4 linked regions of the Homo sapiens genome follow. The protein of the gene in region 4 purifies or fractionates together with the protein of the main gene of each other region. This does not show direct contact. Each region holds a gene or a part of one and is shown on either strand. Other genes may lie near its edges.

Region 1 (6,090 bases), on a different chromosome or scaffold from region 4:
TAGAAGCTGGTAAGTCTGTCTACCTTAGGACACTGAGTTAACTGGCCACAATCGGGGTCCCTTCACACAAAGACAGCCATGGGCAGTTGTGGAGGACAGAAACCACTGCCTAGTACCAAAGCCCAGTAAGGACAGAGGGAAAAAGGTATGCCTGACTTAGGGATTAGTCTGACTTCCTTGGAAAAATCCGGGCAGGTTCTAGCCATCTTCCTAAAACATCGGTGTCATAGGGGAGCAAGGGCCACAGCCCCAGGGCAGGAGAGATTCTGTGACATGTTTGAACTGTGTAGTTTGTATAGAAGGGCTCAGGCTTTGGAATCAAAGCAGACCTGGATTCAAACCCTGGATCTGATCCTTACTAGCTTGTGTGACTTTAGGCAAAATGTACAATTTTCTGAGTAATGATTTTCACATTTCTAAAATGAACCCATTTCCCCAGAATTGTTGTGATGATTAAATGAGATAACAGCAAAATAAAATCCTCAGCAAAGAGCCTGGAATGTGTGTCTTCTGAGATATTTTCACAGAGAAACGGATATTTAAACTGAGTTTCTCCCCATGGTAGGCTACATTATCGTCTCCTGGCTAATAATCTCTAGCCAGGAGACACAGTCTGCACACCCACAGACATTGTACTAATATGGTACAATGGTTTAAAAGGCCAGTTCAATAATCTATTATTAGATTACTTGCTAATCTCCCCTTCCCTATAAGAGCATTGTACATCCTCTCCCACTGCCTGGTGGCTTGCAGAGGGGCATCCTTTCCCATCCTACTGATGTCAGTCTTGATCAGGGGGTGCTCTGGCCAAAAGAATGCAAGTGGGCAAGACATACAGTACTTCAGAGAAGCTTTAAGAGGCATTGTGCATTCTTGCTAGCTCTCCTGCTCCTTCTCTCTGCCACAAAGATAACATATCCCAAACAGGAGCTGCTCCTTCAGCATGTATCCCTGAATGAAAAAGACACAGGGAACAGAAACTCAACAGCCAGCTAACAGCTGCTGACATGTAAGCAAAAGAAAGTAAGCATGAGCAAGCAATACAAATAAATGCTTGCAACAAAACTAGCTGACAAACTTATCATTTTGAGGATACACACTGAAGCTGGAAGCAAGATGCTAAGGTGCCAGAGACCAGGCTGCCTGCACACCCACAGGAAGGACAAAGGCTGGCCATGGATAACTCAGAACCACGTCAGAGGTACCCGGAGTCCAAGATTACTACTTACCCTGTCCATAAAGCCCAGGCTGCTGGGCACCGTAGGAACTTGGAGGTGGCTGACCATAGGGGCCCCCGGGAGCTGCACCGCCATATGGTCCTCCTGGAGTTCCAGAGGGGAACATCCCAGGATTGGGGTGTCCATAGGGCCCTCCACCAGCTGGTGGTCCATAAGGCCCTCCAGGGGCAGGACCCCCATAACCACCACCAGGGGGTAGCCCACTACCATACTGCCCTCCACTATTGGGGGGTCCAGGGTAGTAGCTACCCGGAGGGGCTCCTGGTGCTTGTCCTGCAGCTCCTGGGCAGCCCTGCAGGAAGAGCAAGATATCAGTCAGAATGATGAGGCCAGAAACTAGGCAGAGTATGGCACTTTACAACCATAAAGCACTTCCACCACCATCCTTTCAACTGATCCTATAGGTAGGGTTGGAATTATGATCTCACTGCTCAGATGGGCAAACTGAGGCTTCCAGAGGAGCAACGAGTTACCCAAAGTCACCCCGCCAATGACCTGCAGAGTCAGGGTTGAAATCCTCCTTTCCTAACTCTCCTTTCCTGCACATCAAGGGGCTCCACAAGGGCTAGGATCCTGTCTGGTTTGTCACTTTATCCCCAGCTCCCAGTGTAGAATGGATACTTGGTAAATATTTCCTGTATGAATGAATAGGCAAATGAATCAAACAGAATTCCAAATGCCCATCCTGTGGTACTCCCATCTCTATCTGCAGAACTCATGGGGCAAACGCAGTCTCTAACACACACCCCTGACCCTCATCAGTCACAAATGACATAGCTATAGCATGGATTCATCCACAGCATGTCTTCCTTACCCTGATGTAAAAACATTTCCCTATCCTCACTCACAACTCTGTGAGGCAGGCAGGGGAGACCCTATTCCTAAGGCAATACGATACAATGCTTTCAAAGGCCAGTTCAACAGCTAGGCGTGGTGGCTCACAGCTGTGTAATCACAGCACTTTGGAAGTCTGAGGCGGGCAGACTGCTTGAGCCCAGGAGTTAGAGACCAGCCTGGGCAACACAGAAAAACAACATCTCTACTAAAAACCTGGGCAACATAGAAAAACTACATCTCTATTTAAAAAATACAAAAATTAGCCAGGTGTGGTGGCGCACACCTATAGTCCCAATGACTCAGGAGGCTAAGGTGGGAGGATCACCTGAGCCTGGGGAGGTCGAGGCTACAGTGAGCCATGATCACACAACTGTACTCCAGCCTGGGTGACAGAGTAAGATCCGATCTCAAAACAAACAAACAAACAAAAAACAACCAGTTCAAGAGTTCAAGTTCAGGTTCTGCCATTTACTAACTGGACTGACTTATCCTCTCTAAGCCTCAACATCTTCTGCTATAAAATGGGAATAATAATAGCTACCTCTCAGGTTAGTTTGTGAATGAAATGAGGCCAGCTATGTGAAGCCCTTTGACATTGGGCCTGACACAAATTAAGCACTCAATAAACACTATTAATAATAGCCTCCTACAGAGGACAAGACTCAAGTCCAGGAAAGTCACACACAGGCTGTGTGGAGGGGCTGGGACCAGAACCTGGGTCTCTTGGCTCTATGTCCAGGGCATTTGTGCATTAGAGCATACATGGGGGCATTCCCTCTCTCATCCATCTTCCCACACCAGTAGCCCTCGGAGTGTTCCGCTCCATCTCCCTAAATGGCTAGCACAGGACCCAGCAGAGCACAGCCCCAACACATCTGCAGACAAGCTGAGCTCAAGGGCACAGACAGCAGCTAGGCCCAGCTCCGAGAACGGCACCATCTAGATACGTTCTAGATCAACCTGTAAGTGCACCAGTGGCCAAGCCACTGAGAGCCTGGGCTTTCTCTTTTTATTGTGTTTGATAGCTTGAAATAATTACTCTTAAGGCTAAGGCCAAATTCATGAGGTTTTTTTGTGGGGAGGGCAGGAAGCAGGCCCTGTCACCCACTCAGCAATCCTTGGGAGCTTTTCTACCCTAGAAGCTGTCATAGCTACTAGCAAGACTCCTTCACAGACAAGAATGGCTCACACAGATCTCAATTTAAAACTCTGCTCCCATCAGCTAAGTTCATGACTGTGGGCCCGTGGCTTCATCTCTCTGAGCCTGCTTCCTCACAAATAGAACAATTCCTTCCTCACTGGACTGTTCTGCAGATTATAAAAAATAAATGCAGCAAAATTCTGTCAGTTTAATTTTTAGCTAAAGAATCCTTTGATAACCAACCTGGGCAACATAGTAAGATCCCACCTCTACAAAAAATTTTTAAAAATCAGCCGGGCATGGTGGTACACATGTAGTCCCTGCTACTCGGGAGGCTAAAGCGGAAGGATCACTTGAGCCTAAGTTGGAGGCTGCAGTGAGCTGTGATTGTGCCACAACACTCCAGCCTGAGTAACAGAGGGAGACCCTGTCTCCAAAAAAAAAAAAAAAAAAAAAAAAGAGAGAGAGAAAGAAAGAATCCTTTGATAAAATAAATAAAACAAATACAAGAAAGTTGCTCTGGCTGAAGTAAGGTGGGAGCTCCAGAGCCCCTACAATATGGAACCCCCTCCCTTGCTACATTCTGAGGGGGCTCTGAAAACCCCTCACAGTGACTGAAAAGACAGTCTGAAAACCACTCACATAAGAAAAATAGTTTTTACAACAGTGCCTGGCATAAAGCAAATGATCAGTAAGTCATAGCTGCTATTGCTATATTAATTACTGTTATCAGCAAAGTCCTGGGCCAGGTGAACTGTGCGGGGTGGGGTATAAAGGAGAGTGAAGCAATCTGAAGGCACTCACAGTTAACAAGACTTAACATGTAGACACTGTGTAACGTCTAACAAAACAGCATAAGGAAAACAGGTGTTTGAAATGGAGACATAAGTCATGTGCCATAGGACTGCAAAGGAAGGAGGGTAAAATCAGGGAGTGTTTCCATGAGAGTGGCATTTGAGCTAGGACTTAGAGAACGAACAGGATTCCCAAGGGGTTGGAGAGGTGTGACAAGAGAAATACCCAGAAGACAAGTCACTTAACCTAACCCCCATTTTACAGATGGGGGAGGGAGGGAGGGACTTGCCCAAGTAATGCTGTGAGCTGGAGGAAGAGACAAGGCTGGACCACTCCCTTGCACCCAATGACTCCCCCTGCCTCCTGCTACAACACTCCTTCATTAAGCAATAGGGCTCAGGATTCCAGCATAGGATGGAAAGGGAGTGGGAACTCTGCAGAATCTGGGCACACCCAAAGAACAGGCCAGACACGAAGCCAGAAGTAGCTGCCCCACTATAAGCCCTGTGAGCAAAGCTATAAACCGCACCTGGCACCTAGGAAAACCCACCTAGGAAACCACCTATAAACCACCTAGGAAACATCCCCAGGCCAACAAAGCAGGTGCTGCCAGGCAGGTCTCCTGCCCTTCTGGCTATTGTAGTCTGGCAGCAATTAAACCCTTTCCTTTCTGTCCTGCATTTGAAGACCTCCTCTGTAGTTTACAAAGTACTTTCACAAACACAAACACTACAGGCAGAATCTTGCCAATGGCCTCCTAACAGAAAAAAGGAAGATGTTAGTTGCCCTCTTTTACAGATGAAGAAACTAAGCCACGGAGCTGTTAAAGGACTTCATTCAGCACGCATTTTCAGAGTGACAATATTGTACTAGGCTCTGTAGTAGATCTGAGGACACAAGTAAATGAAGTCCTGCCCTTAAGGGGCCCACAGATAATTGTGATACAATCTGATCAGTGCCATCAGAAAAATCTACTTATGTGCTATCAAGGAAGCTTAGATGGAGGAATTTGTGCTGTTTGCAGAATGAATAAATGAACAATGTATGAAGTGGGTCAAGGAAAGCTTCCTGGAGGAAGTGGCAGTGATATTGGAAATGGTCCTTGAAGGATGCATAGACATTTTCCAAAAGGCAGGCAGGGAAGGACACTCCAGACAGAAGAGAGAAGAAAGACAAACGCACAGACTTAAGAGTGAGCATAGTGCATTCAGGGAATGAGTTAAACCGCAGAGCCAAGAATGCAGTGTGAACCCAGAAAGGCAGGCCCTCTATACACTCGTTGACCAAGCACCTCTCCCCCTGCATTTCAGTTAGCCGTGAGGTATCAGTGTCTAAGAGTAGTTTCTGTCTAGCATCTCCCCCACCCAACAGTAAGCTCCCCAGGGGCAGACACTGCGCCTCACTCATCATGGCACCCCAGGGCCCAGCACAGTGCCTGGCACCTGCAAGCCTCCACAAATATTTGGACAAATGAACACCACTCTAAAGAGTTTTGTTGGGGCTTTATGCCGGAGAAAACAGAGCACTATAGAAGGGTTTCCAATAGGAGAGGAACGTGATGAGAACCTTGTTTAGAGAAGTAACCAGCGGCGGTGTGGAGGATGAGCCAGTGAGGGAGGCAGTAGCCCAGGTGCTGGGCAGGCAGGGCATGAACCAGACAGCACACTTGGGGATGAAGAGAACGGAATGGATTCTGAAGCTATTTCAGAGATAGACCAGACATGACTTGGTGACTAATTAGATTAGGAAAGAGATGGAGGAGGAGTGAGGAAAGTGTTCAGAATGACTCGGGTTTCTAGCTTTTGCACAAGATGAAGGAGGTGGAGCCAACTGAGACAGAATGCAGGCTGCACAGGAAGTTTGGGGAAGAAGATGAGGTGGTCCCCACCTCACAGAGGGTCACCCAGTGTCACTGAGTTGTTAGCAAAGGTCTGAACCAGAAATGAAAAACAGCATCCCTGACTCCACGTTCTTTTACACTACTCCATGCTCCCAGCCCTTTTTAGAGTTTTTCCAAGAGTTATTTCATACTGATAAACAGGATTGTGAAGGCAGGTGGAGGGGAAGGACAGGAAGAGT
Region 2 (6,090 bases), on a different chromosome or scaffold from region 4:
CACAAGACAAATTAGAGACTGTTCACATGGGCAGTACTACACATTATCAATCCCAAACTGATTTTATGACTCTTGTCATAGAAACCCCCAAAACATCAGGGAGGGTAAGATATTCCAAATGGACCAATCACAAAAAGGATTCCTGTGATTCAACTATCCAATACTTATGGCTATCAATTTAGTCTGGCTTGGGGCTGTTTTTTACAGGGAGGTGGCCTCCCATGGCGCACAATGTGTTTTTCTAAGCTATCCAGAATGGCCACAGCAATCTGTTGGACATGGGGATCAGTATGTTCATGATCTTTGATGTTGTATAAATGCTGCAATCCTCCTTCTTCAATCAGCATGCTGCAATACCTTGAAGCTGAAAAAGAAAAAAAAACACACACAAAACAGGAGAAATAGCTTTTCTTAAAACACTTGAAAATTATTCCACAAAAAAATGACTTCTAGGAGCCATTTTTTTTTAGCTGTTTTGTTATTGATCACTAACATGCTACAGCTTGATAAATAACCTCTATACTGATGTTACGTCTACAGTGCAAGGCCTACACATTCAATCAATAAATAGCTAGCTTGATTTTTCTAACCTCAAGACATGTACAACCTGTATTAAAAAAATAAAAACAATCATAACTACCTTATCTTTGACCCAAAATCACAGGTAAGTGTTGTTATATTTTTATGCATTTCCTATGCTTTTTTTTTTTTTTTAGACAGAGTCTTGCCCTGTTGCCCAGGCCAGAGTACAGTGGCGCAATCTCGACTCACTGCAGCCTCCGCCTCCTGGGTTCAAGCGATTCTTGTGCCTCAGCCTGGAAATACAGGCACATGCCACCACCCCTGGCTAATTTTTTTATTTTTAGTAGAGATGGGGTTTTACCATGTTGCCTAGGCTGGTCTCAAACTCCTGCCCTCAAGCAATCCTCCCGCCTCAGCCTCCCAAAGTACTAGAATTACAGGCATGAGCCATAATGCCAGGCTGCATTTACTATGCTTTTTAAAAACTTAATGGCACTCATACTGCACATACAATTTTTAAATTTTTGAAATATTTTATTAGCCTTTTTTTTTTTTTTTTTTTTTTTAAAGACAGTCTCATTCTGTTGCCCAGGCTGGGGTGATCATGGCTCATGCCCAGTGGTGTGATCATGGCTCACTGCAGCTTGCTGTGTTGCCCAGGCTGGAGTCCAATGGCACAATTTTGGCTCACTGCAACCTCTGCCTCCCGGGTTCAAGCAATTCTCCTTCCTCAGTCTCCTGGGTAGCTGGGACTATAGGCACCAGCCACCACACCTGGCTAAATTTTTGTATTTTTGGTAGAGGTGGGGTTTTACCACGCTGGCCAGTCCAGTCTCAAACTCCTGACCTTAAGTGATCTGCCTGCCTCAGCCTCCCAAAGTGCTGGGGTTACAGGTGTGAGCCACCACACCCAGCCACATTAAAACATTTTAATACAAATAGAAGTGAATTCCATTTAAATATAAACAAAATAAGCCCACAAGGTAGGAACCTAAACTATCTGAGTTGGAGACAAAATATTCTAATATTCCCCAAATTACAGTGCATTTTAGAATAAATTATTCAGGGGCTGGGCGTGGTGGCTCACACCTGTAATCCCAGCAGTTTGGGAGGCCGAGGCGAGCAGATAACGAGGTCAGGAGATCGAGACCATCCTGGCTAACGTGGTGAAACCCCGTCTCTACTAAAAATACAAAAAAATTAGCCAGGCGTGGTGGCAGGCGCCTATAGTCCCAGCTACTTGGAAGGCTGAGGCAGGAGAATGGCGTGAAGTGGGAGGCGGAGCTTGCAGTGAGCCGAGATCATGCCACTGCACTCTAGCCTGGACGACAGCAAGACTCCGTCTCAAAAAAAAAATAAAATAAAATAAAATAAATTATTCAGGGCTGTCATTCCATAGAGTAAAACCTAAATAACTCTAATACCTAAAAGTAGTGACAAAAATAAATACTCATATGAAAATGCACTATTATTATTATTATTATTATTTTTTTTTCAGACAGAGTCTCACTCTGTCGCCCAGGCTGAAGTGCAGTGGTGCGATCTCGGCTCACTGTAACCTCCACCTCCCAGTTCAAGTGATTTTCCTGCCTCAGCCTCCCTAGTAGCTGAGAGTACAGATGTGTGCCACAACCCACAGCTAATTTTTTGTATTTTTAGTAGAGATGGGGTTTCACCATGTTAGCCAGGATGGTCTCGATCTCCTGACTTCGTGATCCACCCGCCTTGGCCTCCGAAAGTGCTGGGAATACAGGCGTGAGCCACCATGCCCAGCCAAAAATGCACTATTATTTACTTATTATGTTTTATTTTCTCCTACTGAGCTGTGAAAGGTCCATTCCTTGAGTTATGAGGAAAGGAACCTATAGATTAGAGACTGGGAATATGATGGGATCAACTGTTAAGAAATTTGGGAGTCCTCAGAACCTGTGGGTACAGTAAAAAGAAAACGACTTTAGGGCAGAGACAGTTTAATGTAGCTAAAGAGGCAGTTTTCGATTTATGAGTGAACAACTCTGCTTCTGGGTAATGTAGTAGGAAGGACCGGATAAGCCTCCAGGTGGGAGTTCAGGTGGGTACAAGGCAGTTTTCTCGGTCACATCCCATTCATTGAATTATTCTTCTTTATCTGACACAGAAGAGCTTTTACTGCATTGCCTTTTTGTGGTATGCAGTGAGTTTTCATCAAACAATACAAGAGAAGGAGCTGGGTGCGGTGGCTCATGCCTGTAATCCCAGCACTTTGAGAGGCCAAGGCGGGTGAGTTCGAGACCAGTCTGGCCAAAATTGTGAAACCCAGCCTCTACTAAAAATACAAAAATTAGCTGGGCATGGTGGCGTGTTCCTGTAGTCCCAGTTACTCGGGAGGCTGAGGTAGGAGAAATGCTTGAATCTGGGAGGTGTAGGTTGTGGTGAGCTGAGATCGTGTCACTGCACTCCAGCCTGGGCAACAGAGTGAGACTCCGTCTCCAAAAAAAAAAAAAAAACCCAAGCGAAAATCTCACTAAATGTTACTACTTCTGCTATAAGGATATTAGTAAAAACAACTCTCACATATCCTATATAAGGCCCTTTATAGTATGTCCCCTATTAAGGTCCAATAGAAGAAATTTAATTCATAGTTAACTTCTCATAAAAAATTCTCTCCCCTCCCCATCTCCCCTGACAAGGATATGGAATGTTTCCCTCTTATATGGAGAACCATGTCGCTTTTTACTTGCAGCAGAGCCACAAAAATCCCTATGCATGGCCTACAAGTCTACATTTGACTATTTTCCCTCTATCCTAGAATTTTTTTTTTTCTTTTTGAGACAGAGTCTCACTCTGTCACCCAGGCCAGAGTGCATGGTGCCATCACAGCTCACTGCAGCCTTGCTTTCTGGGCTCAGATGATGCTGCCACCTCAGCCTCCCAAGTAGCTGGGACTACAGGAGCACACCACAACACCTGGCTAATTTCTTTTACATCTTTTATAGAAACTAGGTTTCGCCATGTTGCCCAGGCTGGTCTCAAACTCCCGGGCTCAAGCGATCCACTCACCTCAACTTCAGAAAATGCTGGGATTATAGGGATGAGCCATTATGCCCGGCCCCTATAATTTTTGAAAAATTATTTTTCCTTACTTCTAATTAAAACTAAAAGTAGGCCAGGCACAGTGGCTCACACCTGTAAGCCCAGCACTTTGGGAGGCCGAGGTCGGTGGATCACCTGAGGTCAGGGGTTCAAGATCAGCCCAGCCAAAATGGTGAAACCCTGTCTCTACTAAAAATACGAAAATTAGCCAGGTGTGGTGGTGCAGGCCTATAGTCCCAGCTACTCTGGAGGTTGAGGCAAGAGAATCGCTTGAACCTGGGAGGTGGAGGGTGTGGTGAGCCGAGATCGCACCACTGCACTCCAGCCTGGGTGACAAAGTGAGACTCCATCTCAAAAAAAAAAAAAAAAAAAAAAAAAAAAAAAAAAAAAAAATATATATATATATATATATATATATATATATATATATACACATATATATACACACTTTACTATTAAAGTGGTTCTGTGTATTTCTTGTGTCAAATCATTTGTGGAATGAGTTTATATTAATAAATAATTAGGCCACGCTTGATGGCTGACGCCTGTAATGCCAGCACTTTGGGAGGAAGAGGCAGGCAGATCGTTCGAGCCTAGGAGTTTGACACCAGCCTGGCCAACATGATGAAACCCCATCTCTACAAAAAATACAAAAAAAAGCCAGGTATGGTGACGTGCACTTGTAGTCCTAGCTACAAGCTGAGGCAGGAGGATCATCTGAGCCTGGACGTCAAGGTTGCAGTGAGCTGTTACTATGCCACTGCACTCCAGCTCCAGTGATAGAGACAGACCTTGTCTCTAAATAAATAAATAAGAGTTACATCGTAGCTTTCAAAGAATAATATAGAACCTGATTCAAACACTTTGCTTCTTCAGAAACCATGGGTGCTGGCAGCGACATCTTGAACAACAGAATTTTGGGTGAATGAGAATTGGGCACCGGAATGTACCATAAACAGTGGATCTACTTAAGACCTTTTACTCAACAAATGGACTCACTGTAGTCTCCTAATCTTTAAATTCCTTGAGGTGAGAACAGTGTCTCATTCACCACTATTATTCAGTGTCTAGTTACACCATGCTCATTCTGAAAGAATACCTTAAGTTGGCCGGGCACAGTGGCTTATGCCTGTAATCCCAGCACTTTGGGAGGCTTAGGCGGGCGGATCACCTGAGGTCAGGAGTTTGAGACCAGCCTGGCCAACATGGTGAAACCCCGTCTCTACTAAAAAAAAATAATAATAATACAAAAATTAGCCGGGCATGGTGGCAGGTGCCTGATATCTCAGCTACTCGGGAGGCTGAGGCAGGAGAATCGCTTGAACCCAGGAGGCGGAGGTTCCAGTGAGCCGAGATCGCGCCACTGTACTCCAGCCTGGGGAACAAGAGCGAGACTTCGTCTCAAAAAAAAAAAAAAAAAAAAAAAAAGAATACCTTAAGTTTATAACCTAAGATGGCCTTACATTTTAAGTCAGTGTTCTTAAAAATCACTTTAATACACAATTTAGAAATATCTTTCCTGGGAAATGAGAATTTCACTTAAAGAAAAAAAACACAGTTCTTTTTTTTTGGTACATACGATTCTTGCTGCAGACATGTTGCATGGCCCAAACTGCCCATAGCTGAACTCCTGGTGTTGTGAAACAGCCAAGTAATGGGAAAAATGGATTAAAGGACCTAAAGGTTCAAAAGAAAAGAATCAAAGTTACATCCCATATTTAGCGTAATTTCCTAAAGCAGTGATTCCTAAACTTTTCATTTTCAAAATTTTATCCTATTATATTTAGACTAATATAAATGAGCTATAGAATATCATTTCTTTGTCTTAACCATTTCAGAGAAGACTGCATTCAGACATGACTCAGTACAGAAGATGGAAGGTGATTAGAACATGGTAGTGAAAGAGAAAAAATTTTTCCAAAAGCACTTTTTAGTCTTAAAGATACACATTTGAAGATAAGTAGATCTTGGTTTGGAAACTAAGAAATAGAGAAATTAGGTGATAACTAACTAGTAGAACACTATGAAAAAGATGTATAATTATCCCTTCTATTTTCTACTGGTCTGAATAAAAATAGGTGGAACATAAGTTGGAGAAATAAAAAAAATGTTGGCAACATCAGCATTTATGAACCAAACAAAAAAAATAAGTTGAATAAAAATTAAATACTTCAGGTAATTAGTAATTTAATTATCAAGTTATCTAATTACAAACAGAGTTAGGCATCCAGTATGCACTTCTTAATTTTTGTTATTTATTTATTTATTTATTTTGATACGGAGTCTCGCTCTGTCGCCCAGGCTGGAGTGCAGTGGCGCGATCTCAGCTCACTGCAACCTCCGCCTCCTGGGTTCACGGCATTCTCCTGCCTCAGCCTCCCAAGTAGCTGGGACTACAGGCGCCTGCCACCACGCCCGGCTAATTTTTTTGTATTTTTAGTAGAGACGGGGTTTCACCACGTTAGCCAGGATAGTCTCGATCTCCTGACCTCGTGA
Region 3 (6,090 bases), on a different chromosome or scaffold from region 4:
AGTCTCAGTCCAACCCCCCTTGGCCTCCTCCTCATAGACATGACCTGAGAAAGATCTTATAGGACTCAGTCAGGGCCTGGCCTGAGGATCCTCTGAGAGAAGCTCAGCCCTTGAAGCCCCTGCCCCAGGCCCCTGTCCCAAGATCCTGACTCCAGATGACCCTGGGGAGCCTGTGCCAGGGCTGGGTTGTGGCTTCCTGGGCAGGGCTGATTGTGAGCAAGGATTTACCAGCTGTCCCAGGGCCGTGGTTCCTAGAGCTGGTCACCAGGCAGGGCTCAGCCCCCAGAGCCCCATCTGGGCAAGGGCAGAGCCTCATCTTTCACCTGAGAGTCAGAGTGGAGAGGACAGACAAACAAACTTCCCAGGCCATTAAACTGGATGGGAAACTTAAAAGATGTCCCGGGAAGTGCACTGTCCTCAGGAGGAGGGAAAGCAGAGAAAAGACACTCTGGACCGCTCCTTCTCCACCAGGAATCAGGCCCAGAGAACTCTTTTTTTTTTTTTTTGGAGTAAAATAATAATAGATGATGTTTATTTGGAGCTATTCTGTGCCAAGCTTTAGGTCAGGTAATTGTAAATATTTTAATGTTAATTTACAGAGAGGATGGCAAGCCAGGGACCATTGACATGTACCCCATTTTATTAAAGAGAAATTGCATCAGCATCACACAGGCTGTCAGTGCTCAACGTCACACCACCGTGTGTCTGCAGCCCAGAATCTGGTCGTGGCCACCACCGTGGGGCATCTGTGGACCCCAGGACCAGATGTTGGTTCAGCTCCTTTCTTCTTGGGCATCCTCAGCTCAGAGAGGGAGATTCTGGTCTGAGGAATGACGGGCAAATGGAGAATTAGTCAGTTTTTACTTAGAACGAAATCACCTGTCTCAACTATCAGACTCAATGCCAGGATTGTCCAAGCCTCTCCCATCAGATCCACATTCCTTCCCTCACTGGACGTGAAATCATGAATTTCTTGATTTGTTGATGTCACTCCCATGGGAGGATGAAGGAAAGGACTCAGCTTTCTCTTCCCACTACACCCTGTACCTGCACAAGGCCCAACTGAGACACACACTCAGTAGTTCTCTGATGAAGGAGGGAGGGAATTAATGAAAAAAGAAAGGAATAATCATAACCTCTTTACAGACTGGGTCCTGGATGTAGGATCCTAGGAGGAGCTGGCCACACCTCTTCCTTGTCCCTTAGGGGCTGAGACCCATGTTCCATTTCTCTGACTGCCTGCTCCTAAAGCCACCCCAGGTATTGCATCTCATGTGACTCTGGGGCCGCTCATCTGTGGGAGGGTTTTCAGGGCTCCCTGGTCCTGGTCTGAGGCAGCTGGGTCCTCCTGGTCCCTGGGGTCTCTGAGGTCACTGTAGTCCCTACTGCTCGCTGCTATGGGTGTCTCTGGTTCTCTCTGCTCCTCCCTGTCCTTCATCTTTCTCCTTTATTCACAGGAGAATGTTCTAAATTTGACTCTGAGATCTCTGAGGATGCAGCATGGCCCCAAGACACTTTCTGTTGGTCACTCTATCCACAGAGTCAGTGGCTCAGCCCTCCATCCAAGCCAGCAGCACCACAGTCACAGAGAAGGGCTCCGTGGTCCTGACCTGCCACACAAATAACACTGGAACCTCTTTCCAGTGGATTTTCAACAACCAGCGTCTGCAGGTCACGAAGAGGATGAAGCTGTCCTGGTTTAACCATGTGCTCACCATAGACCCCATCAGGCAGGAGGACGCTGGGGAGTATCAGTGTGAGGTCTCCAACCCAGTCAGCTCCAACAGGAGCGACCCCCTCAAGCTGACTGTAAAATGTGAGTGACCCTCGGCCCCTCTCACTCCTTTCCTTGTATATTTTCCTAGGAGGGAGGGGGGGTGTAAAATGATACACGGAATGAGAAGGATGAGATTCCTTCAGAGCCTGGGGAGCAATGTGGGTAAGAACTCAGGGATTAGACTCATCCAGTTATCATCCTGGTTACAATAGGTACCAGGTATTTGACCTTGGGCAAGACACTCAACCTCCTGGGCCTCAGTTTCCTCATCTGTAGAATTGTTACAAACACCTGGACCTCAGGGTGGTTGTGAGGATATTTATTCAGAGATTAATGCGATTAAAGCCCTTAACAAGGTCATGCACAGAGCCAGGGCTCAATCAGTGCTATCAATATCGACTGGTATTATTTTTATGAACTTTGTTGTTATTAGCTGTTAAGTTGAGCAGACTTTGGTTACATTTTTGTTGTATCACTTTCACTTACCAGTTCTGTAATCTTAATTGAAGTACTGAATCTTAATTGAAGTACTGAATCTTAATTGAAGTACTGAATTGAAGTACTTCAATCTTAATTGAAGTACTGAAACTATAAGTTTCAGATTCTAAATTGGCAGATGGGATTCCACCCTGTTTGGAAAAACTCAAACTGTGTTTTTCCTCTGCTCTCACTCCACAATAACAATCATCAACACAGACACACTTCTGTGACCAAATGTGATGGGGGGGGGTTTCTCCCACACACCCAGCAGCCAATCAGTTCTGCACCGTACATCAGCTAGGTGTCCTCCAATTCCATCCTGACACTATCTACCTGGACATATCAGCAGAGGGCTCAGTCCCACAAAATTGCCACCACCTTCCCACCAGTCACAAGTCTGGGCCTCCAGAGCTTCTTATGACTGGCTTCACATTGAGGTTTCCATGACTCCCTGTTTGGGTTGGATTAGTTTGCTCAAACAGCTCTCAGGACTCAGGGAAACACATACTTAGGCTTACCGGTTTGTAATAAAGGACTTTACAAAGGATGCAGATGAAGAGATGCACAGAGCATGGCATGTGGGAAGGGGTGTGGAGCTTCCATGCCCTCCCCAGATGCACCACACTCCAGAAACTTCCATGGGTTCAGCTCTTCAAACCCAGTCCTTTTGGGGTTCATGACATAGATATGATTGATTTAATCATTGGCCATTAATTGATTCAATCATTGGCCATTAATTGATTCATTGGTCATTGGTGATTAATTCAAACTCCAGGTCCCTCCCCAGGGATTAGGGGTGAGGCTGAAAGTCCCAACCCTCTAATCCTACCTGGGTCAGTGACCAGCCTCATTCTGAAGTTGCCTAGGGGCTGCCAGTCATCAGTCAATTATTAGCTTGAAAAAGACATCACTTTGAAGATTCTAAGGACTTTAGAGTCACATACCAGAAAATGGGTGTATTAGTCTGTTGGGAGCAAGCCCCCCAAAATCTGGCCATAAACTGGCCCCAAAACTGGTCATAAACAAAATCTCTGCAGCACTGTAACATGTTCATAATGGCCCTAATGCCCAAGCTGGAAGGTTATGGGTTTACAGGAATGAGGGCAAGGAATACCTGTCCCACCCAGGGTGGAAAACCGCTTAAAGGCGTTCTTAAGCCACAAACAATAGCATGAGCAATCTGCATCTTAAGGGCGTGTTCCTGTTGCAGTTAACTAGCCCAACCTATTCCTTTAATTCGGCCCATCCCTTGGTTTCCCATAAGGGATACTTTTAGTTAATTTAATATCTATAGAAACAATGCTAATGACTGGTTTGCTGTTATTAAATATGTGGGTAAATCTCTGTTTGGGGCTCTCAGCTCTGAAGCCTGTGAGAACCCTGATTTCCCACTTCACACCTCTATATTTCTATGTGTGTCTTTAATTCCTCTAGCACTGCTGGGTTAGGATCTCCGCGACCGAGCTGGTCTTGGCTGCTGATAAAGACATACCTGAGACTGGGTAATTTTTTTAAAAATGAGGTTTAATTGACTTACAGTTCCACATAGCTGGGGAGGCCTTGAAATCATGGCAGAAGGCAAAAGGCATGTCTTACATGGCGGCAGGCAAGAGGGCATGTGTAGAGGAACTCCCCTTTCTAAAACCATCAGATCTTGTGAGACTTATTCACTATCATGAGAACAGCATGGGAAGAATCCACCCCCATGATTCAATTACCTCCCACTGGGTCCTTCCCCCAACACGTGGGGATTATTAAAATTCAAGGTGATATTTGGGTGAAGAAGAGCCAAACCATGTCATTCCACCCGACCCCTCCCAAATCTCATGTCCTCACATTTCAAAACTAATCATGCCTTCCAACAGTTCCCCAAAGTCTTAACTCATTCCAGCATTAACCCAAAAGTCCAAGTCCAAAGTTTCATCTGAGACAAGGCAAGTCCCTTCCACCTATAAGCCTGTAAAATCAAAAGCAAGCTTAGTTACTTCCTAGATATAATGGGTGTACAGGCACTGGGTAAATACAACCATTCCAAATGGGAGAAACTGGCCAAAACAAAGGGGCTACAGGCCCCATGCAAGCCCAAAATCCAGCAGGGCAGCCAAATCTTAATGCTCTGAAATGATCTCCTTTGTATCCATGTCTCACATCCAGGTCACACTGATGCAAGAGCTGAACTCCCATAGCCTTGGGCTCCACCCCTGTGGCTTTGCAGGGTACAGCCCCACTCCTGGCTGCTTTCATAGGCTGGCGTTGAGTGTCTGCAGCTTTTCTAGGTGCATGGTGCAAGCTGTTAGTGGATCTACCATTCTGGGGTCTGGAGGATTGTGGTCTTCTTCTCACAGCTCCATTAGGCAGTGCCCCAGTAGGGACTCTGTGTCGGGGTTCCAACCCCACATTTCCCTTCAACACTTCCCTAGCAGAGGTTCTCCATGAGGGCTCTGCTTCTGCAGCAAACTTCCACCTGGACATCCAAGCATTTTCATACATCCTCTGAAATCTAGGCGAAGGTTCCCAAACCTCAATCCTTGACTTCTGTGCACCTGCAGGCTCAACACCACATGGAAGCTGCCAAGGTTTGGGGCTTGCACCCTCTGAAGCCATGGCCCCAGCTGTACCTTGGCCCTCTTTAGCCATGGCTGGAGTGGCTGGGATGCAGGGCACCAAGTCTCTAGGCCGCACACAGCAGGGGAGCCCTGGGCCTGGCCCAGGAAACATTTTTTCCTCCTAGGCCTCCAGTCCTGTGATGGAAGGGGCTTCCAGGAAGGTCTCTGACATGCCCTGGAGACATTTTTGCCATTGTCTTGGGGATTAACATTTTGCTCTTCATTGTTTATGCACATTTCTGCAGCTGGCTTGAATTTCTCCTCAGAAAATGGATTTTTCTTTTCTATTGCATCATCAGGCTGCAAATTTTCCAAACTTTTATGCTCTGCTTCCCTTTTAAACATAAGTTCCAATTCCAAACCATACCTTTGTAAATACATAAAACTGAGTGTTTTTAACAGTACCCAAGTCACATCTTGAACACTTTGCTGCTTAGAATTTTTTTTCCACCAGTTGCCCTAAATCATTTCCCTCAAGTTCAAAGTTCTGCAGATCTCTAGGGCAGGGGCAAAATACCACCAATCTCTTTTCTAGAGTATAACAAGAGTCACCTTTGTTCCAGTTCCCAAGAAGTTCCTCATCTCTGTCTGAGACCACCTCAGCTTGGACTTTATTGTCCATATCACTATCAGCGTTTTAATCAAAACCATTCAACAAGTCTCTAGGAAGTTTCAAACTTTTTTCCTGTGTCTTCTTCTGAGCCCTCCAAACTGTTCCAACCTCTGCCTGTTACCCAGTTCCAAAGTCACTTCCACATTTTCAGGTATCTTTATAGCAGCACTCCACTAGCTGGTACCAATTTACTGTATTAGTCCATTCTCACACTGCTAATGAAGACATACCTGAGACTTGGTAATGTATGAAGAAAGAGGTTTAATTGATTCACAATTCCACATGGCTGGAGAGGTCTCACAATCATGATGGAAGGTGAAAGGCATGTCTTACATGGCAGCAGGCAAGAGGACATGTGTAGGGAAGCTTCCCTTTATGAAACCATCTGATCTCCTGAGACTTATTCACTATCACAAGAACAGGATGGAAAAAACCCACCCTCATGATTCAATTACCTCCCACAAGGTCCCTCCCATAACACATGGGGATTATTACAATTCAAGGTGAGATTTGGGTGGGGATACAGAGCCTAACCATATCAATGGTGATGAACACCAAATACGTATTTCACAATATCACATACCCTTCTCCCTCAAGGCAATGGGAGGGTGAGA
Region 4 (6,090 bases):
TGCCTGCCTGTGGACACAGAGCTTTGCTGTCACCCCAGGAAGCCCCCTCCCCACTGCCATTTCCCTGGCTCTGAGCTGCAGGATGACACCCAACAGACTTCCAGGAAGAGACCTCGGAGCTGCTGGAGCACAGGCAACGTGGCTGCTTGGTGTCCTCAGCAGGGCGCCCGAGCCCAGCTCGGATTGGTGTGCATGGCCTCAGCCCCGCCACGCTGCCGCAGGAAGGAGCCCCACGAATGGTTACGACATGAATGACATGTGCTGACAGCAGCCACGGCAAGGAGGGCAGGACTGACCAACCCCAGCCGAAAATGACAGCTCCGGTCAGGGCCACTGTGCCCTTCCCAGGAAAATGGGCAGCTTGGGGTACCCCGTGGCCCCTGGCTTTGTCCTCAGTCCAGGCCAGGATCCCATAAAGATATAGCTGGGGGGTCGAGGTTCTTCCTCCTAGGAAAGCTGCTCAGGAGCCCCAAGGCACAAGGAGGGGCCCTTGCCACGTGTGCCGTGGGCAGCCAGGCCCATTCCAGGCTGGGGAGAGGGAGACAGGGTAAAGAGAGTCAGGCCACTCTGTTCAGCAGTTCAGTTTTTGCAAAGCAACTGTGACCGAAAACCAACTGCAAGATTCTCAAGAGCCCTGAAGAGTCAAGGAAATAAATCATCCAAGAACACACTAAGCCCGCCAAGGGCCCACCCTGACCATGTGGGCAGAGATAGCTTGTAAGGCTCACAGTTATGTCCCCCAGGTCATCAAGGGCCAGAGGCTGGATGTGGGTGCTCCGAGATTACAGCTGAATCCTCCCCTCCATACCCGTGTCCTTCAGGGACTCCCCAACAGCAGTGGCAATGGCCAGAGAGCCAGGTTCTGCCTGCACGGTTCAGGCCATGGCTCATGGCAGCATTACAATGCCTGTTGAGCTTCCCAAAGCAGAAAGGTCCACTGCCCACCCCGGGGAGCAGTGAGCGGGTCCCTGTGGGTCGCACTGCGCACACGCCTCTGTTCCAGCCCCTGCTGCTGCCCAACAGCACAATCCTCTCTTCTCATGTCCATTTCCCCAATTAGACTGGGAGCTCCCTGTGGCCGTGACAGTGTCCACACACACGTCTCTGGCTGCCCACAGCTCTGCTCTGCAGAGGGCTGGGTAAATGGTGAGCGCTCGTAAAACGTTGAAATGAACAGCAGTGATAACTTGGCCTCGGGTTCCATCAGACACATCAGCGATCTCTCCTCCAGACTAAAACTGAGCGTGCTGAGAACAAAAACTGCATCTTGCTTGACTGGCTTCTGGTACCCCCTGGCACACAGCAGGGGTCTGTGCCATTTTGTTAAATGGATGAATCAAACAAACAGGATTACCATGTCAGGCTCTGAGGCAAGATGGGCAACTGTTCTCAGCTTCACCAGGATTCCCAAGCACCAGAACCACCTCTCCCAACTCCCAGGGCCTACCCCACCCACAGTTTCAACAGACCCCATCAGACACGGACACCAGGCAGTGCCACTTGGAGGGAAGCCCCGGTGAGGCCACAGGGACACAGAGGCTCTTGCAGCTGAATGCACAGAGCCCGGAGGCACCCCCTCGGGGCACGGCACCATCCTCTCTGTCAGTCTTAGCAAATGCTGACTACTGACTAAGGACCTATTAGGTCGCAGTCCCTGGAGATTCGGAGAGCTCAAGCAGTAATTTTGAGCCTCCTCAATGCTGCTGCCTTCTCCCATATATTTCCCCAGGAACCCCATTTTTAAAAAGATTTGTTTCTACCAAGCAAGCTGTGTTTATTAAGCAATCATTTAATTTCCTATTTTCCTTTCATAGAAAAAAATCCCTATGTACCAATCATAGGCTTCTGACCAGCATGGGCTCACAACCCTGTGACCATCAACTGTGCAGGACCCCAGCCCAAGGCAAAGCAACCTGACATTTCCCTTCATCCGCGTGACCGTCTAAAGGAGAAACGTAGGACCCCCCCACCCGAGGATGACTACATTCATCCTAAGAGAATCAGGCCTGCCACAGAAGACTGCTGGAGGAAACACCTCAGTACACCACCCCTGTACTGGGAGAGGAAAGAGATGAAGCCCCAGTGACATTCACCTTGCCCAAGGCCGTGAGTGCTAAGAGGCAAGGCCCGGGCAGGTCTGGGCAGGAAGTAAAAGCAGAAGAGGACTCCTGTTCTGCTGTCCCTTGTCCCAAGTGCACAACAGAGGCGAAGGGTGGCATCCCTCACCACCTCCCTCCCTCACCACCTCCCTCCCTCACCACCGCCCTCGGAGTCCTCTGCTCGGGGCTCTCCATCCAGCCCAGTCCCCCAGCCCCTGGACTCCCCACGCCACCCTCCCAGACAGAGGCCCACCTGCTGCCGCTCCCCCGGGGTCAGTGTGGGCGAGAGGCCGGCTGGCCTGCTGGCGTCCAGGCTGTTCTTGGTCAGTGCGAGGGGCTGCTCCAGGCCAAGGCTGGGGAGGGAGGTGTACAGGTGGCTGCCGTGCAGGCTCATGGTGGGGGCCACAGCGCGCTCGATGGGGCTGCGGCTCCGCTCCCGGGGGTCTCTGCGGCAGTCTCCATTGGCAGTCTTGTTCCTGAAAAAGAGGAATGGGCATTCAGGGGGCGTTTTCTCAAAGGCAAAGGGGACAGTGACTGTGCGCCAGGCACTCCGTGTTGCTTATTTAATTTTTTACCCTGAAGCTCAGGTCGTGTGGCTGGGCAGCACGATGAGGAGCCGGTTGCCAGCCCGGGTCAGCCGGACACCAAAGCCTCTGGGTGCCGGAGAAGCTGCTGCCAGCGGAGTCCAAAGTCAGCTCCATAGAAGATGGAGCCCCCGACTCAGTGGCGTCCTCTGCCTGACTCTGTGTTCACTTCTATAATAATCTCCACTCCCTGGGAGCCTGGGGAGCTGGAGGCCAAGCTGGTTCGATAAGGACCTGCCATTTGGACAGGACGGGGACGCTGACAACGATCCAGAGTCACTGGCTGCGTCCTACATGCAGGGCCCTATTCAAAGCCTCCACAGCACTGCTCAGCCCATCTTCCTCACAGTACTGCTCAGCCCGTCTTCCTAACAGCACTAAGCAGGCAATGCTGCCACCATCCCCTTTCCAGACCAGAACCCCAAGACTCAAGAGTGGTGGAATAATCAGCTCAGACTCCCAGCTGACATGTGGTGGCACGTGCTCTGGGGTTCCCGGGGTGCTGTAGGGAGCCGGCGCGCAGCTCTCTCGTCCAGGACACACGAGCAGGAGTGACCTGCGTCCAGAAGGTCCATCACTAGCCCTGGCCATGTGCTGAGCACCCAGGCGATGCCACGTGGAATCCAGGTGAGACAGTCAGCACCACCTCCATCTGATGTGTTAGTCTGAAGGCAGCGTTACGTGTTGCATCTATTAGACACCAACCCCACACAGGTAAGCCATGGCCAGCCCTGGTCCACCCTCCCTGCTTTATTCCAGGGGTCCCACAGTTCCATCTGCCTTGGGTCTTGCCCCTTCAATCCACCATATTATCCGCTGACAGAGTAACCTTTTTCCGTAACTCATGAGCTGGTCATTTAAAGAAAAAGGTGGTGAATTATGATTTGAGTGAATTTTAAGAAATACAAATTATTTTCAGAGTCTACAAGTAGTCACCTGTCTTAACTAGCAGAAAAGCCTAGGCCTGCCCTGGTGAAGCAGCAGCCACAGCCCCCGTCCCGGACTGGCTGAATATGTTACACACACAATGAATGTTACACACACAATGTTACGCATGCACACAGAATGTTACACACACACTGAATGTTACACACACGCACACCACACACACACACGCATGTGATAGGCGTACCTTTCTAAAACTGTAGATTAACTTCAGTTGTAAGAAACAACACACGGCCATCCCATGCACCCTTTACCTTGACTCCCGCGATGGTGACATCTTGTAAAACTACAGTACAATATCACAACCAGGATATCGACAATGAGACAACTACCAACCTTATTCAGATTTCGTGTTTTGCTTGTATCCATTCCAGAGCAATCTCTTTATAAGGCAAATCCAACCACATCCAGCCCTTAGTGAATGTTTTTAGCAGCTCAGCACGGGCCTTGGTAGCCTCTGGGCCTGACCACCTTCCCGTCCTCATCTCTGGCTTCACGCCTCCAAATGTTGTGTTCCGTAGTTCCAACCATCTACTTGCCATTCCTCAAATAAGATGCGGCCACTCTCTGCCTCTGTGGCTGTGTACACGCGGTGCCGCTCTAGCCTCCCTCCTCCCCGTCCTGCGCTGCCAACCACAGCTGCAGTGTAGAATCCCAAGGCGCCCCGTGCAAACCTTTAATACAGAATCCATCCCCCACCGTCAATGATCTCTTCGTCTACGCACCCGCCCCTCCTCACACACGGCAGCCTCTGAGGGCGTCGAGTCCCTCCTGTCTCATTACGCTTGCTACCAGGGGTGCACAGAGACTTAACGGGTGAATGAAGAGAAGCAGCATATGGGTGACCGTGTAAGAAAGGCAGGTATCGTGGAGTGGAACTGTGGGTGGGCAGAATCATGGAGAGCTGGAGGGCTGAGGAGTCAACTGGAGGCGCATTCAAGCCTTTAGATGGACCCTGCGGCCCAGTCGGTGAGCTGCTAAGGGCTGAGCAGGAGAAGCACCAGAGGGGGCCTGAGTGCAGCCTCGGCTGTGATGTTGTGATGTCATTCTGCGCCATCTCCAGCAGGGGCACGCGCTCAGCTTAGTGACCCGAGGCGTTCCGAGCCTCGGCGTCCCCATGTAACCATGTGGTCACAGTAAGATCCACCCAGAGGACTCTAAATGGGGGACAAACAGCACACAAACAAAAACAATCAGAGCGGCGCAGTGCAGCCCTCAGTGAGCGCCAAGAGAACCCTGTCAGCCCTAAACCGAGTATATTGATTATAGGGTGATTAGCTGTACAGGACCCAGTATTCGTTTATGGGGTTTTTTTCTTCCCCTTTATTTTCTGGCTGATGATACAGAATATCTTAAAAGCAATTAAGGATTAAATGTTCAGCCCATTAAGACAATCATGGAAGAGAATGTTCTGGCAGAGTCTAGATAGTAGGTTCCATCCACGCCACACACATCCTGGCGATTTTCAAAACGTTAAAATACTAAAAACCTTAATACTGAAACCAGCCTGTCCATAATGTCATCTGTCTGTGGCGATTCAGAAGACAGCACAGGTTTCTGCAATGAATGCCTCAAGGGTTATGATCCCAGACACCGATGTCACCAGAAGACCTTCCGCGGAACGGACGTCAGGCCAAGCAGTCCTGAGATCTGCTGGCTTCTACCTAAACGGGACTTGGTTCCTGAATACTCAGTTCATCAGTGTCACCACACATCCTCATCTTCAGTGTCCCGCTCCCTTCTAAATTCAGATAAAGATACAATTTTATTGTTAACAACATGAGTGAATGGCTTCTCTCCACCCCAGGTGATGCTTCCACGGGCCACTTCATGAAGTGCATAGACCTGGGGGCTCATGTCCCAGATTCAGGAGAGCCTCAGACACAGTCTGCCTCCGAATTTAGACGTCTGTTTACTCAACCAGCGCTAGTTAAGTCCCTGTTCTGTGGAGGTTCCAGAACTGCAGGGTTACAGCCCTGCCTTCTCATGGGCTTACAATCTAGCAGGGACAGAAAGGCCCGGGAGGGGCTGCAGCTCCCAAGTGACAGCTCTGGATCCGGGCAAGGATAAAGACACCCCCGGGTGGCATGGAGGAGCAGACTAAAGGTCAGGCGTCTGCCCATGTCCAAAGCCAAAGTCGTGGTACATAAGGCACTGCCCACCCCTCGCACCTTATGTCCTAGGGGCACGGCACAGTCACGCAGATGACTCAGCTGCGCCTTAGGAAATCCAAGCATGACTATGAGACCACATCACAGAGGAAAGGGGTGCCAGGGCCGCCAGCTGCCAGGGCAGAGGTAAGGACGGGGCAGCCCTGCACCTAAATCTGCCATCTATGCTCCCACAGCCCCACTGTGCGCCCACCCTACGCAGGGCAGCAGGGAGAAGGGGACTTCCAGGCCCACTAACTGGAAAGACAGTCCGTGGAACACAGCACAGTGGGCACTATGGGTCAGACAAAG

The links.
Region 1: the proteins of VGLL4 (region 4) and PEF1 purify together in Homo sapiens (co-immunoprecipitation; one large-scale study listed by IntAct). This does not show direct contact.
Region 2: the proteins of VGLL4 (region 4) and ZYG11B purify together in Homo sapiens (affinity purification with mass spectrometry; one large-scale study listed by BioGRID and IntAct). This does not show direct contact.
Region 3: the proteins of VGLL4 (region 4) and CEACAM21 purify together in Homo sapiens (co-immunoprecipitation; one large-scale study listed by IntAct). This does not show direct contact.

Annotation. Positions count from the first base shown.
Region 1 is NC_000001.11:31,633,993-31,640,082, forward strand, and holds part of PEF1 (peflin), read right to left. Parts: intron 1,531-6,090; coding exon 1,230-1,530; intron 952-1,229; coding exon of another isoform or gene 854-951; exon of another isoform or gene 674-853; intron 501-673; exon of another isoform or gene 1-500. UniProt on the Homo sapiens protein: Calcium-binding protein that acts as an adapter that bridges unrelated proteins or stabilizes weak protein-protein complexes in response to calcium.
Region 2 is NC_000001.11:52,815,713-52,821,802, reverse strand, and holds part of ZYG11B (protein zyg-11 homolog B), read right to left. Parts: intron 5,272-6,090; coding exon 5,174-5,271; intron 365-5,173; coding exon 174-364; 3' UTR 1-173. UniProt on the Homo sapiens protein: Serves as substrate adapter subunit in the E3 ubiquitin ligase complex ZYG11B-CUL2-Elongin BC. Acts to target substrates bearing N-terminal degrons for proteasomal degradation with the first four residues of substrates being the key recognition elements.
Region 3 is NC_000019.10:41,577,813-41,583,902, forward strand, and holds part of CEACAM21 (cell adhesion molecule CEACAM21 isoform 1 precursor), read left to right. Parts: intron 1-1,146; exon of another isoform or gene 1,147-1,260; intron 1,261-1,457; coding exon of another isoform or gene 1,458-1,540; coding exon 1,541-1,816; exon of another isoform or gene 1,817-1,820; intron 1,821-6,090.
Region 4 is NC_000003.12:11,562,445-11,568,534, forward strand, and holds part of VGLL4 (transcription cofactor vestigial-like protein 4), read right to left. Parts: intron 3,398-6,090; exon of another isoform or gene 2,576-3,397; coding exon 2,353-2,575; exon of another isoform or gene 1,842-2,352; coding exon of another isoform or gene 1,815-1,841; intron 1-1,814. UniProt on the Homo sapiens protein: May act as a specific coactivator for the mammalian TEFs.